2 separate regions of the Homo sapiens genome follow, and region 2 is linked to region 1. Evidence: fine-mapped expression QTL. Tissue or cell type: monocytes. Region 1 holds a variant in brackets; the other region holds the start of a gene. All regions are shown on one strand. Distances are between the middles of the regions.

What was found. PIP is the estimated chance that this variant, and not a neighbour inherited with it, causes the effect.
Region 2: ANAPC13 starts here. The variant in region 1 is fine-mapped to the expression of ANAPC13 in monocytes (Quach 2016, PIP 0.95).

Annotation. Positions count from the first base shown.
Region 1 is chr3:135,023,887-135,031,886 of GRCh38, reverse strand. All of the region lies in intron 3 of EPHB1 (EPH receptor B1), which reads right to left. Among named protein-coding and RNA genes, the nearest start is that of EPHB1, 230 kb to the right of the region's middle. The variant C/T (reference allele first, on the strand shown) is at 3,826.
Region 2 is chr3:134,481,876-134,489,875 of GRCh38, reverse strand. ANAPC13 (anaphase promoting complex subunit 13) reads left to right here and starts at 3,891. Exons shown (of 3, transcript NM_015391.4): 1 at 3,891-3,924; 2 at 6,945-7,070. The coding sequence starts at 6,972. CEP63 (centrosomal protein 63) reads right to left here and starts at 3,819. Exons shown (of 15, transcript NM_001353108.3): 1 at 3,674-3,819. RefSeq lists enhancers at 2,887-3,705, 3,797-3,906, 3,987-4,086, 4,117-4,236.

The DNA of each region.
Region 1 (8,000 bases):
GATTTTTAACTTAGACATCATACCCAGCCAATCAACGAAATATAAGGGTAGGATAATTGTATTTTCAGAGAAGTGAGGATACAAAACATTTACCTTTCAAGCATACTTTTGAAGAGAGGACTTGAGGAAGGAGTTGGGAGATCATCTGAACTATCTGAGCATTTGGAAAATAATATTTGTTATTATTATAGAATTTTGATTGGCTTTGTGGAAAAAAGTACAAGAAAAAGAAAATAACAATGTAACTCTACTTGGCTAAGCATTGAAAAATAGTTGCAGCTGGATGCAGTGGCTCATGCCTATAACCCCGGCAATTTGGGAGATCCAGGCAGGCAGATCACTTGAGCCCAGGAGTTCAAGACCAGCATGGACAATGTGGAGAAACCCTGCCTCTACAAAATATACAAAAATTCGCCAGGCATGGTGGTGTATACCTCCAGTCACAGCTACGCTGGATGCTGAGGCAGGAGGATTATTTGAGCCCAGGAGGCAGAAGTTGCAGTGAGCTGAGACCAGGCCACTACACTCCAGACAAGGCTACAGAGTGAGACCCCATCAAGAAACAGAGAAAGAGAGAAAGGGAGAAAGAGAGAGAGAGAAGGAAGAAAAGAGAGAAGGGATTCTTTGTAACCTTCTTGAGGGAGGAGCCAAGAGGGCCGAATAGGAACAGCTCCAGTCTACAGCTCTCAGCCTGACGACACAGAAGACAGGTGATTTCTGCATTTCCATCTGAGGTACGGGGTTCATCTCACTAGGGAGTGCCAGACAGTGGGCGCAGGTCAGTGGGTGCGCGCACCGTGCACGAGCCAAAGCAGGGCGAGACATTGCCTGACTCGGGAAGCGCAAGGGGTCAGGGAGTTCCCTTTCCTAATCAAAGAAAGGGGTGATGGACGGCACCTGGAGAATAGGGTCACACCCACCCGAATACTGCGCTTTTCCGACGGGCTTAAAAAATGGCGCACCACGAGATTACATGCCGCACCTGGCTCCGAGGGTCCTACTCCAAGGAGTCTCGCTGATTGCTAGCACAGCAGTCTGAGATCAAACTGCAAGGCGGCAGCGAGGCTGGGGGAGGGGCGCCCACCATTGCCCAGGCTTGCTTAGGTAAACAAAGCAGCAGGGAAGCTTGAACTGGGTGGAGCCCACCACAGCTCAAGGAGGCCTGCCTGCCTCTGTAGGCTCCACCTCTGGGGGCAGGGCACAGACAAACAAAAAGACAGCAGTAACCTCTGCGGACTTAAATGTCCCTGTCTGACAGCTTCGAAGAGAGCAGTGGTTCTCCCAGGACGCAGCTGGAGATCTGAGAACGGGCAGACTGCCTCCTCAAGTGGGTCCCTGACCCCTGACCCCCGACCAGCCTAACTGGGAGGCACCCTCCAGCAGGGGCATACTGACACCTCACACTGCAGGGTATTCCAACAGACCTGCAGCTGAGGGTCCTGTCTGTTAGAAGGAAAACTAACAAACAGAAAGGACATCCACACCAAAAACCCATCTGTACATCACCATCATCAAAGACCAAAAGTAGATAAAACCACAAAGATAGGGAAAAAACAGAACAGAAAAAATGGAAACTCTAAAAAGCAGAGCGCCTCTCCTCCTGCAAAGGAACGCAGCTCCTCACCAGCAACAGAACAAAGCTGGACGGAGAATGACTTTGACGAGCTGAGAGAAGAAGGCTTCAGACGATCAAATTACTCTGAGCTATGGGAGGAAATTCAAACCAAAGGCAAAGAAGTTGAAAACTTTGAAAAAAATTTAGAAGAATGTATAACTAGAATAACCAATACAGAGAAGTGCTTAAAGGAGCTGATGGAGCTGAAAACCAAGGCTCGAGAACTACGTGAAGAATGCAGAAGCCTCAGGAGCCGATGCAATCAACTGGAAGAAAGGGTATCAGTAATGGAAGATGAAATGAATGAAATGAAGCGAGAAGGGAAGTTTAGAGAAAAAAGAATAAAAAGAAACGAGCAAAGCCTCCAAGAAATATGGGACTATGTGAAAAGACAAAATCTACCTCTGATTGGTATACCTGAAAGTGATGGGGAGAATGGAACCAAGTTGGAAAACACTCTGCAGGATATTATCCAGGAGAATTTCCCAAATCTCGCAAGGCAGGCCAACGTTCAGATTCAGGAAATACAGAGAATGCCACAAAGATACTCCTCGAGAAGAGCAACTCCAAGACACATAAGTGTCAGATTCACCAAAGTTGAAATGAAGGAAAAAATGTTAAGGGCAGCCAGAGAGAAAGGTCGGGTTACCCTCAAAGGGAAGCCCATCAGACTAACAGCGGATCTCTCGGCAGAAACCCTACAAGCCAGAAGAGAGTGGGGGCCAATATTCAACATTCTTAAAGAAAAGAATTTTCAACCCAGAATTTCATATCCAGCCAAACTAAGCTTCATAAGTGAAGGAGAAATAAAATACTTTATAGACAAGCAAATGCTGAGAGATTTTGTAACCACCAGGCCTGCCCTAAAAGAGCTTCTGAAGGAAGCGCTAAACATGGAAAGGAACAACCAGTACCAGCTGCTGCAAAATCATGCCAAAATGTAAAGACCATCCAGACTAGGAAGAAACTGCATCAACTAACGAGCAAAATGACCAGCTAACATCATAATGACAGGATCAAATTCACACATAACACTATTAACTTTAAATGTAAATGGACTAAATGCTCCAATTAAAAGACACAGACTGGCAAATTGGCAAGAGTCAAGACCCATCAGTGTGCTGTATTCAAGAAACCCATCTCACGTGCAGAGACACACATAGGCTCAAAATAAAAGGATGGAGGAAGATCTACCAAGCAAAGGGAAAACAAAAAAAGGCAGGGGTTGCAATCCTAGTCTCTGATAAAACAGACTTTAAACCAACAAAGATCAAAAGAGACAAAGAAGGCCATTACATAATGGTAAAGGGATCAATTCAACAAAAAGAGCTAACTATCCTAAATATATATGCACCCAATACAGGAGCACCCAGATTCATAAAGCAAGTCCTGAGTGACCTACAAAGAGACTTAGACTCCCACACATTAATAATGGGAGACTTTAACACCCCACTGTCAACATTAGACAGATCAACGAGACAGAAAGTCAACAAGGATACCCAGGAATTGAACTCAGCTCTGCACCAAGCAGACCTAATAGACATCTACAGAACTCTCCACCCCAAATCAACAGAATATACATTTTTTTCAGCACCACACCACACCTATTCCAAAATTGACCACATACTTGGAAGTAAAGCTCTCCTCAGCAAAGGTAAAAGAACAGAAATTATAACAAACTATCTCTCAGACCACAGTGCAATCAAACTAGAACTCAGGATTAAGAATCTCACTCAAAACCGCTCACCTACATGGAAACTGAACAACCTGCTCCTGAATGACTACTGGGTACGTAACGAAATGAAGGCAGAAATAAAGATGTTCTTTGAAACCAACGAGAACAAAGACACAACATACCAGAATCTCTGGGACACATTCAAAGCAGTGTGTAGAGGGAAATTTATAGCACTAAATGCCTACAAGAGAAAGCAGGAGAGATCAAAAATTGACACCCTAACATCACAATTAAAAGAACTAGAAAAGCAAGAGCAAACACATTCAAAAGCTAGTAGAAGGCAAGAAATAACTAAAATCAGAGCAGAACTGAAGGAAATAGAGACACAAAAAACCCTTCAAAAAATTAGTGAATCCAGGAGCTGGTTTTTTGAAAGGATCAACAAAATTGATAGACCGCTAGCAAGACTAATAAAGAAAAAAAGAGAGAAGAATCAAATAGACACAATAAAAAATGATAAAGGGGATATCACCAC[C/T]GATCCCACAGAAATACAAACTACCATCAGAGAATACTACAAACACCTCTACGCAAATAAACTAGAAAATCTAGAAGAAATGGATAAATTCCTTGACACATACACTCTCCCAAGACTAAACCAGGAAGAAGTTGAATCTCTGAATAGACCAATAACAGGATCTGAAGTTGTGGCAATAATCAATACCTTACCAAGCAAAAAGAGTCCAGGACCAGATGGATTCACAGCCGAATTCTACCAGAGGTACAAGGAGGAACTGGTACCATTCCTTCTGAAACTATTCCAATCAATAGAAAAAGAGGGAATCCTCCCTAACTCATTTTATGAGGCCAGCATCATTCTGATACCAAAGCCGGGCAGAGACACAACCAAAAAAGAGAATTTTAGACCAATATCACCAATATCCTTGATGAACATTGATGCAAAAATCCTCAATAAAATACTGGCAAAACGAATCCAGCAGCACATCAAAAAGCTTATGCACCATGATCAAGTGGGCTTCATCCCTGGGATGCAAGGCTGGTTCAATATACGCAAATCAATAAATGTAATCCAGCATATAAACAGAGCCAAAGACAAAAACCACATGATTATCTCAATAGATGCAGAAAAGGCCTTTGACAAAATTCAACAACCCTTCATGCTAAAAACTCTCAATAAATTAGGTATTGATGGGACGTATTTCAAAATAATAAGAGCTATCTATGACAAACCCACAGCCAATATCATACTGAATGGGCAAAAACTGGAAGCATTCCCTTTGAAAACTGGCACAAGACAGGGATGCCCTCTCTCACCACTCCTATTCAACATAGTGCTGGAAGTCCTGGCCAGGGCAATTAGGCAGGAGAAGGAAATAAAGGGTATTCAATTAGGAAAAGAGGAAGTCAAATTGTCCCTGTTTGCAGATGACATGATTGTATATGTAGAAAACCCCATTGTCTCAGCCCAAAATCTCCTTAAGCTGATAAGCAACTTCAGCAAAGTCTCAGGATACAAAATCAATGTGCAAAAATCACAAGCATTCCTATACACCAACAACAGACAAACAGAGAGCCAAATCATGAGTGAACTCCCATTCACAATTGCTTCAAAGAGAATAAAATACCTAGGAATCCAACTTACAAGGGATGTGAAGGACCTCTTCAAGGAGAACTACAAACCACTGCTCAAGGAAATAAAAGAGGATACAAACAAATGGAAGAACATTCCATGCTCATGGGTAGGAAGAATCAATACCGTGAAAATGGCCATACTGCCCAAGGTAATTTACAGATTCAATGCCATCCCCATCAAGCTACCAATGCCTTTCTTCACAGAATTGGAAAAAACTACTTTAAAGTTCATATGGAACCAAAAAAGAGCCCGCATTGCCAAGTCAATCCTACGCCAAAAGAACAAAGCTGGAGGCATCACACTACCTGACTTCAAACTATACTACAAGGCTACAGTAACCAAAACAGCATGGTACTGGTACCAAAACAGAGATATAGATCAATGGAACAGAACAGAGCCCTCAGAAATAACGCCGCATATCTACAACTATCTGATCTTTCACAAACCTGAGAAAAACAAGCAATGGGGAAAGGATTCCCTATTTAATAAATGGTGCTGGGAAAACTGGCTAGCCATATGTAGAAAGCTGAAACTGGATCCCTTCCTTACACCATATACAAAAATCAATTCAAGATGGATTAAAGACTTAAACGTTAGACCTAAAACCATAAAAACCCTAGAAGAAAACCTAGGCATTACCATTCAGGACATAGGCATGGGCAAGGACTTCATGTCTAAAACACCAAAAGCAATGGCAACAAAAGACAAAATTGACAAATGGGATCTAATTAAACTAAAGAGCTTCTGCACAGCAAAAGAAACTACCATCACAGTGAACAGGCAACCTACAAAATGGGAGAAAATTTTTGCAACCTACTCATCTGACAAAGGGCTAATATCCAGAATCTACAATGAACTCAAACAAATTTACAAGAAAAAAACAAACAACCCCATCAAAAAGTGGGTGAAGGACATGAACAGACACTTCTCAAAAGAAGACATTTATGCAGCCAAACAACACATGAAAAAATGCTCATCATCACTGGCCATCAGAGAAATGCAAATCAAAACCACAATGAGATACCATCTCACACCAGTTAGAATGGCAATCATTAAAAAGTCAGGAAACAACAGGTGCTGGAGAGGATGTGGAGAAATAGGAACACTTTTACACTGTTGGTGGGACTGTAAACTAGTTCAACCATTGTGGAAGTCAGTGTGGCGATTCCTCAGGGATCTAGAACTAGAAATACCATTTGACCCAGCCATCCCATTACTGGGTATATACCCAAAGGACTATAAATCATGCTGCTATAAAGACACATGCACACGTATGTTTATTGCGGCATTATTCACAATAGCAAAGACTTGGAACCAACCCAAATGTCCAACAATGATAGACTTGATTAAGCAAATTGTGGCACATATACACCATGGAATACTATGCAGCCATAAAAAATGATGAGTTCATGTCCTTTGTAGGGACATGGATGAAATTGGAAATCATCATTCTCAGTAAACTATCGCAAGAACAAAAAACCAAACACCGCATATTCTCACTCATAGGTGGGAACTGAACAATGAGATCACATGGACACAGGAAGGGGAACATCACACTCTGGGGATTGTTGTGGGGTGGGGGGAGGGGGGAGGGATAGCATTGGGAGATATACCTAATGCTAGATGACGAGTTAGTGGGTGCAGCACACCAGCATGGCACATGTATACGTATGTAACTAACCTGCACAGTGTGCACATGTACCCTAAAACTTAAAGTATAATAATAAATAAATAAATAAATAAATATTCTTTGTAACCTTCTTGAAAAAAAAAAAAAAAAGAAAGAAGGAAGGAGGGAAGGAAGGAGGGAAGGAAGGAAGGAAGGGGGGAGGGAGGGAGGGAGGGAAGGAAGGAAGGTTGTATAGATATAATAATCTAAACACGCTACATTTAACAAAAAAGTTGTAAATATATGTTAACAAAGTGAACAAATATACATTTTGTATTATACATATGTAGATATGAAAAATCATATATAATTACCACATGGATATATAATACATATAGTAATAGATATTAGCAAAATAAGAGAAGAAGAAAAATATAGAAAGGGGCAAGAGATCCAAATCCTCAGCATTGATAAAGGGAAGTCAAAAGACAATGTCTAAATTGACATCAATAAAGCACATTAAGCATATAATTCAAAAAATGGGAGTATATCTAAGAAACAGATAGGAAGTGTTAGGGAAAAGAATGGGGTAGGGGAGATGATCAGGAAACTGATTTTTTCCTTTTGGTACTCATGGAATTGTTTAATCCATTACTTTAATAAAAATAGAAATTAATTTACGAAATGAAAAGCTGCCATTTCCAAAGTGGGCCCACTACAACAGGAAGGAAAAAGGTGCTAGACAACCCCCCGGTGTAGGATGGATGGAGACCAGATGAAAAGGGAGCCCCCAGACACGTGCTCTGCTCTGGCTGGGAACTAGCACACTTTTAAATTCTGGCGATGTCCATCCGTGTTTCTAAACCACGTGGTTGAAAGGTTTTAAAGAAGGTGGCTTTAGCAGATTAGTTGGAACTTCCCCTCTCTGGGATTAAAACAGAAGAAGTAAAAGTTGTATTTTCACAACTAGAGCAACACTAGAGCCCTGTTTTCATTCCACCCAACAGTTTGTGACATGAAAATAAACAATATGGAAAGGAGGTGTTTCTATATTTTTCCCGAGTCTCTTGAGATGAAGTTGGGCAAAGGGTATGCAGCCAAACTGTTTTCACACCATGCTTCAACTGAGTCTCACACTTCTTTGCATTTAGAGGGGATTTTCATCACTGCCTGGTTTCAGAATTGACTAGGTAGAGACTGTAAGCTGATAGCTCAGCTCAGCCATCATTACCACGTGTGGCCTGAACCAAGTGTTGGTGGTGTCTGGAAGAGCTGATTACATGTATTTAAAGTTGCAGCGGGGCCCCTTTTCAGTTTGGCCCAAAATAAACTACTTCATTGTTCATCCCAAATTATAATCTTAACCAGTGATATATTCACCTAAAATACCAAACTATATATTCAAAACAATTCTCCTAAGAAACAGGAATTATTTTTTAAAGAGTTTAAA
Region 2 (8,000 bases), 540 kb after region 1:
AGTTTAAATATAAAGTCTATAAGTTCATGATTATAGGTTTACAAAAAGGCAAAAACCCTCATGGTTACCTTTGGAGGCTGCTAGGCCACCAACTCATTACTGTGGTCTGAAAATAGAGGCAAAGAATTAAGCATTTTTCTTGCCTTTCCTGTACAAATTGTATTTCAGGGTAGTCAAACAGCTGGAAAGGGAAAGTTCTTCATAAAAGACTCTCAGTTGATAAATATTGAAGAAATAATAGAATTAGATAATCACCACGTTGCAACCTCTAATGCAATAACGGATACAGGCAATATAACCCCACAAAAGGACTTCACCACTAAGTGAAAGAGTCTTGGGGAATTTCACTATGGGTGGATGGAGCTAACTACACCTAAACCCAATATAATGTTTAATGTTAACATCATAAAAAAAGAAAACAACTCAGACACTGCTTCCCTGATAATTAATGAAATAGGAAGTATACTGCATTACCTATGAAATTATCTGTCCAACCCCCCCAACTATCCCACCAAAAAACAAAACAAAAACAAATATAAGGGTGAAATCTCATCAGGCTTCTAGAGCAGTGCTGTTCAATACAACTTTCTGCAATTATGAAAATATTTTATAACTGCACTGTTCAAAAAGCAGCCACCAGGCAATCTGTAGCTACCGAGCACTTGAAATGTGGCTAATGCAAGTTAGGAACTGAATTTTTTTTTTTTTTTTTTTTTTGAGACAGTCTCGCTCCGTCACCCAGGCTGGAGTGCAGTGGCGTGATCTCGGCTCACTGCAACCTCCACCTCCCGGGTTCAAGCGATTCTCCTTCTCCTGCCTCAGCTTCCTTAGTAGCTGAGATTACAGGCGCATGCCACCACGCCCGGCTAATTTTTCATTTTTAGTAGAGACGGGGTTTCACCATGTTGGTCAGGCTGGTCTCGAACTCCTGACCTCGTGATCCACCCACCTCAGCCTCCCAAAGTGCTGGGATTACAGGCGTGAGCCACCGCGCCCAGCCTAGGAACTGAATTTTTAATTTTATTTCACTTTAATTAACTAGCCACTGCTGGCTGGTGGCTACAATACCGGACAGTGCAATTCTACATCTAACTACTGGTTTAGAGCAGTGGTCCCCAACCTTTTTGGCACCAGGGACCTGTTTCATGGAAGACAATTTCTCAACACCGACAGGGCGGAAATAACACATTTTGTAAATATCTTTTTGTTAAAATTCATATGAAATGTTTTGGGGGAGGAATGGCCAAACCACTTTTTTTTGTTTTTTGAGACCGAGTCTTGCACTCTTGCCTGGTCTGGAGAGCAATGGTGTGATCTCGGCTCACTGCAACCTCCGCCTCCCGGATTCACGTGATTCTCCTGCCTCAGCCTCCCGAGTAGCTGGGATTACAGGCGCACACCACCACACTCGGCTAATTTTATTGCATTTTCAGTAGAGACGGGGTTTCACTATGTTGGCCACACTGGTCTCAAACTCCTGACCTCATGCCCACCTCGGCCTCCCAAAGTGCTGGGATTACAGGCGTGAGTCACCGCGCCCGGCCAACCACTTCTTCAGTAATATGAATAATACACATGGACAGGGTTAGGGGCATGGTTTCAGGATGAAACTATTCCACCTCAGATCATCAGGCATTAGTCAGATTCTTATAAGTGTGCAACCTAGATTCCTTGCATGCGCAGTTTACAATAGGGTTCGTGCCCCTAGGAGAATCTAACCTCACGGCTGATCTGACAGGAGGCAGAGCTCAGGTGGTAGGTAATGCTCACTAGCCTGTCACTCACCTCCTGCTCTGTAGCCTGGTTCCTAACAGGCCACGGACTGGTACTGCTCTGCGGCCCCGGGTTTGGGGGCCCCTGGTTTAGAGGACACAAAGGCAACAGAGATACATGTTAAAGGATACTGTGCGATGCAATCTGCTAAATTTAGAACTGTAAGGAAAAATAGGGGCTAATCCCATAGCTATAACTATGAGGGAACAAATATAGATTAAAAGATGTCAAATGTGCATCACCCAAACACAATAGGCAGATCCCTGTGGGATTTTGGTTCAAACAAGCTAATTGTAAAAAGACATTTAAGAGACAGTTGAAGAAATCGTTATCTGACTGGATATTGACATTAGAGAATTTTTATTAATTTGTGTATGTGTAATGACAGTACTGTGGCTCTGTAAAACTGAAAAACCTAGCTCCTGATGGGGGCGGGGAGGCGGACTAAAATAACATAAAGATCGGAGATTCAGTTCCTGAAACCTTCTGTCAATGTTGGCTTTAGCTGAATTTCAAGTCAAGTTGACATTTTTTGAAAGCAGGAAGCAATGACAGAGTGGACTACTGATGCTGTCACCATCTGCCAGCACAACATAAATTAGAACAGAAAGGACTAAGCAAAGGTCTTCCACCATTTTAACGAGAGGAAATGGCATCAGTACAATCAACATACACAATTTTTACAAACAACTTTTAGATTTGCATCTACATACATTTTAAAAGGCAGTGTGCCTGTTTATAAATCTCTACTCTAATTTAGTTTCAGAGCTTTTTACTACCCTGATCACTGATAATGCCACAGTCAAAAAGCAAACTCAAAATAAAAATCAATCTAAAAATGGTACTGCATGCCAAATAAGAAAATATATACACTTTATCATTAAGCTACAGCTAACAGAAATCTAATCAACGATCCTTATGATTTCCTCGTATCTAAAAAATAAATGCAAGCACTTGAGGAACTGTATAAATACAGGGCATCTACCCTACAATACTGCTTTATTAAAATAATAAATTCTTTTAATAAGTTTAACCAGACATAAGGCTCAGGGAAAACTACTCTGTGCATATCAGCGTACGGTGCTGAAACTGTAAAAGACGACCTGTCTCTGACATCATACTCATCTTTACTCTCCTGATGTCGTAAGGGACGTAAGAAAAACCACATTATAAGCCTAAATGTACTGTCTTCAAGTATCTCCATGATTAAAGTGTTCCTAAGAAACCGTCCTTATTTCTTTCTATCCCTCATTTGTGTGCATGGAGCCGTTAGTTCAGGGTTCTCCAATTTCAGTCCACGATTTATGCCACATTTCCGTACCTCTTGTACTAACATAACCGTTTAAACCAACTCACTATTTTAAAAGCTGCCAACCTTAACATGCCACACTAAATGAGCGGGTCCCCTTGTGCCGTGAATGAAGTAGTCCCAACAGCGCTAGCTAGACAGCAGCCCTGGCAGGGAGGCCGCACTGGGGTCTCTCCGCTGAAAAGGAAGGTGGGTCCGCCGGGGAAGGTGAGTACTGGGCGCAGCTCGCTCGCCCACCTGGCCACTCTCCGAAGCGCCCCCAGCCACCTGGACTCCGAGGAAGGGCTGACCACCTGGCGGGGCCGAACCCCACGCCGGGCTGCGCCACGCCAGACTCCGCCAGTGTGCAGGGCATAGCGGGCCAGGCCGAGGGACTGGGCTTCGGGGCGGACCCAAGCCGGCGGGGACGCGCCTGGTGGTTCGCAGGCCGTTGCGCAAACCGGCCGCAAGCCATGAGGCCGCGAAGCCAGAATCACCAAGGCAGCCTGGGCCGCCTCCAGACCAGGACACGGCAGCCCCTTGCCCCTCCAACTTGCGCACCGGCGGTTACAGGGTTGCCGCAAGCACGCCCCTGAGCCTTCCCGCCGTTACCTCGGGCCGGCGCTGCGCACGCGCGCCACCGCTAAGCTTACGTCCAGCCTCTGTAGTCGGCGCGTTTGTTCCGCCCACTGCCCCCACACTTTTAATAATTGAAACAATGCCTTCTCCAGACTTCCCCTGCACGCGAGCAAATGAACTCACCCACATCCGGGAATCCGAGGAAAGCGAGTGCAGACACGTGATGCGGGGGAGGGGGGGGGGGCGTGGCAGGAGCAAGCGTCTGCCGCGGTGGCCGGGTGCCGGTAAGGGTTTCCAGCGCCCCCGGCCTAGGTTTTGGAGGCGCGGGAATGCGTTCGTTGCTCAGTGTCGGACTTCCCCCTATTCCCATCGGCCGAGGCTGTCACTTTACGCTCATAACCGTTTTTCTTTACTGCACTCGTGTCGGGAGGAAAGGGACTTGCGTGGCACCCCCAGACCTCCCCGTCTCCGCTTCCACGTTTGGTACATCCTGCCTGAGGCAGGAAGCCGCAGCTGAGGGACGGCCTGTCGTACGGTGCGGATGGTGGTGGCCTGCGAGGCTCATTTCTAGCAAGGAACAAGGCTTTCCCGCTTTGATTTTATAAATATTATGTTTACAAAGCTGTAATATATAGAAATTGATAAGACGTGTCCCTGTCCCTGGAAACGCAGGCACCGCGTGTTTGGAAAGACATTCATCTGGGCTGTTTGACAGACTCCCCAGTTGGTGCCATGCTCTGTGCTTAGGGAACTGTGAGACCCCTGGAGGGGTGGGTACCGGGACCGCACTCAGCCTGGGGTTTGGAGGCGGCCTCCTATAGGAAGCGACCTGGGACCTAAGATTTTTAGACTGACTGTGGGTTCACTGGAATAAAAAGGAAGAAACAAAGAGCATTGCAGGCATCGGGACTGTCACGTGAGTAAGAAAAGTTTGTTCAGGAAACAGTGGTCGTACTGGGTGACGAGTACTTGGGACGGTGGCTTTAATACACAAGATAATCAGTGTGCCCTGGGCATTGATTATCTTGATGCTTCCCATCCTTCCAGCCCCTTATGAGGGAAGGCACCTTCGCGCCTAATCCCGGAAATGGGATGTTGACCTTCAAGAGCTGACGCCTGCGTTTATCTTGAAAGGAAGAGTGGCATTAGTGATGTGGAAAAGGGGGTTTTAACTGTCAAGGCTGGAAAATGTGACAGGGTTGGAGGTGTTTGGAGAAGGGACAGGTGAAAAAGATTGAGACCAAATGTGGAAAGATCTACTAAGGAATCATGGGTACAAAATGTACACGTAACAGTTGGAGGCAATAATACCTGAGCAATTGACCACAAAGCTGACCTAGCTTGTTTAGTAGATTAAGTTAGGACAAGAAGCAAGAGTTCAAGGATAGAAGGCCTACTGAAGCTCGAGTGATTTGAGAAAACTTTACAAAGGTGGAAAATCTACGTGGGCCTCCGAAAGTCAGGTTTGGATCAGCTGAGGAAAGTGAGAAGGGTATCCCAGGAGACAGAGCAGCAAGGACAAAGGAGTAGCAGCAGGAAAGTGGGGAGCACTTGTAAGACAGGGACTTCAAAAGTATAACCAAAACTTCGTCTTGCTTTGAGTTATCCACTGGGTAGTACTCGGTTAATTATTGAGTACTGGATTAATTAAGCCCTCACCTGGCTCACCGGTGACAGAAGTAGCAGGGCGCATTTTGCTTAACTTTTGCCGAGATCCTTGTCATGGGGGTGTAAACCCTTTCCCACACCAATCTGTGTATAATTTTTGCCAAGGTGTTAGGGATATCTTGCAGTTATCCTATGGGGGACAGCTGTGAGCCTTTTTGGTTTTTTTTGTTTTTTTTTTTCCGAGACGGAATCTTGCTCTGTCGCCCAGGCTGGAGTGCAGTGGCGCGTGGCGCTATCTCGGCTCACTGCAAGCTCCGCCTCCCAGGTTCACGCCATTCTCCTGCCTCAGCCTCCCGAGTAGCTGGGACTACAGGCGCCTGCCACCATGCTCGGCTAATTTTTTGTATTTTTAGTAGAGACGAGGTTTCACCCTGTTAGCCAGGATGGTGTTGATCTCCTGACCTCGTGATCCGCCCACCTCGGTCTCCCAAAGTGCTGGATTACAGGCGCGAGCCACCGCGCCCGGCCCTGTGAGCCATTTTTACAAAAACTTCCACCTGCCTTGGCCCAAACCTCAGCGTTCTTAGGCACAGGAGCTCATGAACATACTGAGATAACACTAAACTGGACTATGCGAAGGGACCAACTACAGACCTGACACAAATCCTCAAGGCAAGACGATGTCTGAAGTTGAGCTTGTAAAGGAAATGGCTTCCTTCCTTAAAATATCACCCAGGCTGAGCTCTGAAAAAAGCACCTCCAGATGGTGGGTTCCACCCCGCTCCACCACCCCAAAATTGCTTATTGTGTGAGTCTCCATAGTCTCAGAAACTGAGAGTACCTTTGATGCCAGTGGCTTCCGGGCTTTTTGGATTGTCACTTGGTAGCAGGGAGCACCCATAGGATGATGCCTATGATGAGTCAGGGCCCAACCTTGGAAACAGGGAAATCCAGAAGTATCCTACAAGCTAGCCAGCCTTTTGGATTAGATTATAGCAGTTTCAGAGAAAAATGGGGAATCAGCCATGGTCAAGGAGCTAAATAAGCATCGTGACCATTTGGGCCAGAAATTGAAGGGAGTGTAGCGTTAAGAATTAGAGGAAGGAACCTCCGAGGAAGGAGCTACCCCAAAGGGAAGCAGAAACTGGAGAAACTTTAGCAGTATGAGGTTCTACCACTGGTGTTCACCTAGAAGTGCTTTATTCAGATCTCAGCCTGGGTACTATTTTAGGGAAGGAAGCCGTTTCCTTTACAGTATGTTCGTGTGACTCCTGTGCCTAAGAATGCTGAGGTTTGAGCCAGGGGCTAGAAAGGAAACTTAGCTGGCCATTATGAATCAGGGACTCATCAAAGGCATCACAAACAGGAAAAGGTGAATGTTCAAGTTAGAAGAGAAGAGCTACATTGAGATGCAACATATTAATATTTGAGGGCCTCGTTTAACGTGTTGCTCTCCTGTCACACTCTATGACACTGGTCTGTCAGCTGGGCTATGCCTGTCCAGTATACACTATAAAATATGTATCAGTTGGGGTTGGAGAGAGGAACTGTGATCAAAGTAGTCACCCGGCCCATATGAGAAAATGAACCTTTTCCCAAAAGGTGGCCCCAGACTAAAAAGCCTGGAGAATCCTAATAGTGGATTATACCATCTCTTCAGTCTTCGTGTTTAAGAAATAACCTCTTTGGCTTACAGATTTGACAAGATCAAAGCTGCAGGAAAATGGACAGTGAGGTTCAGAGAGATGGAAGGATCTTGGATTTGATTGATGATGCTTGGCGAGAAGACAAGCTGCCTTATGAGGATGTCGCAATACCACTGGTAGGTTATGATTTGAGCTGAGGATGGGTTAAAGGTATTGATCTGGCAGTAACTAGTGGAGGAGGGATATCAATGGAAGATAAACTAGTGTGGCAAAGAAATCAAAGCTGTGGAATTCTCTAACTCTAGAAGCTTCTGGAGAGCATCCAGTTGTATGTTTTATTTGAAGAAAAATGTGGTTCAGGGAGCTAACATGGCCAGGTCAGTTAGGAGTCATGCCAGGACTAGAGCCCCGATTTTCTGAGCCATGTTCTGTCCACCACACGAAAACCAGAGAAACCAAATAATGAGAGTTTAATGCGCAAGATGGGGAAGAACAAGAAGCAGCAGCATATGAGCTCTGTTTCTTACTTCCCTGCCTGTGGCTCATCAGTCTTTCAGCATTTTTAGAAACTTACATTCTTGGAGCATACACCTATCTTAGGTTCCCTGGAAAATATTCAGAAGATACCTGGGTATTCTTTTGCGTTTAGGCCAGTGGCCTTCTGGAATACTCTTTTCTTCCCCATCTTTGGAAAACTCTGCTGCAGGGAGTTTGTTAAACCTCATGTAATAAGTGATCCAAAAGTTTTGCTTATATAAATGTTTGTTTAAAATCCTATTTATGTCATAGAGGCCTAAAAAAGGGAAAACAGGACTGTTTTTCTTTAAAGCATGCCAGCTGCCCTGAGAAGAGTAGTTAGTATTGAATAAAATATAATTTATAGTTAGAATATCTGCTGTTGCTGTTTGCAAAGAAATAAAATAGTTCATCTGTATTTTCATTTACGAATAAGAGATAGTAATATGTTCAATGAATAATATACATATCAAATAAGTCATAGCTTAGTTCAAGCTTAGGAAAATAGTCAAAAGAGAGAGCATAATAAGAATTATAGATGTCATTTATTGAATACCAGTTTTATGCCATGGACTGAGGTTGGAAATATA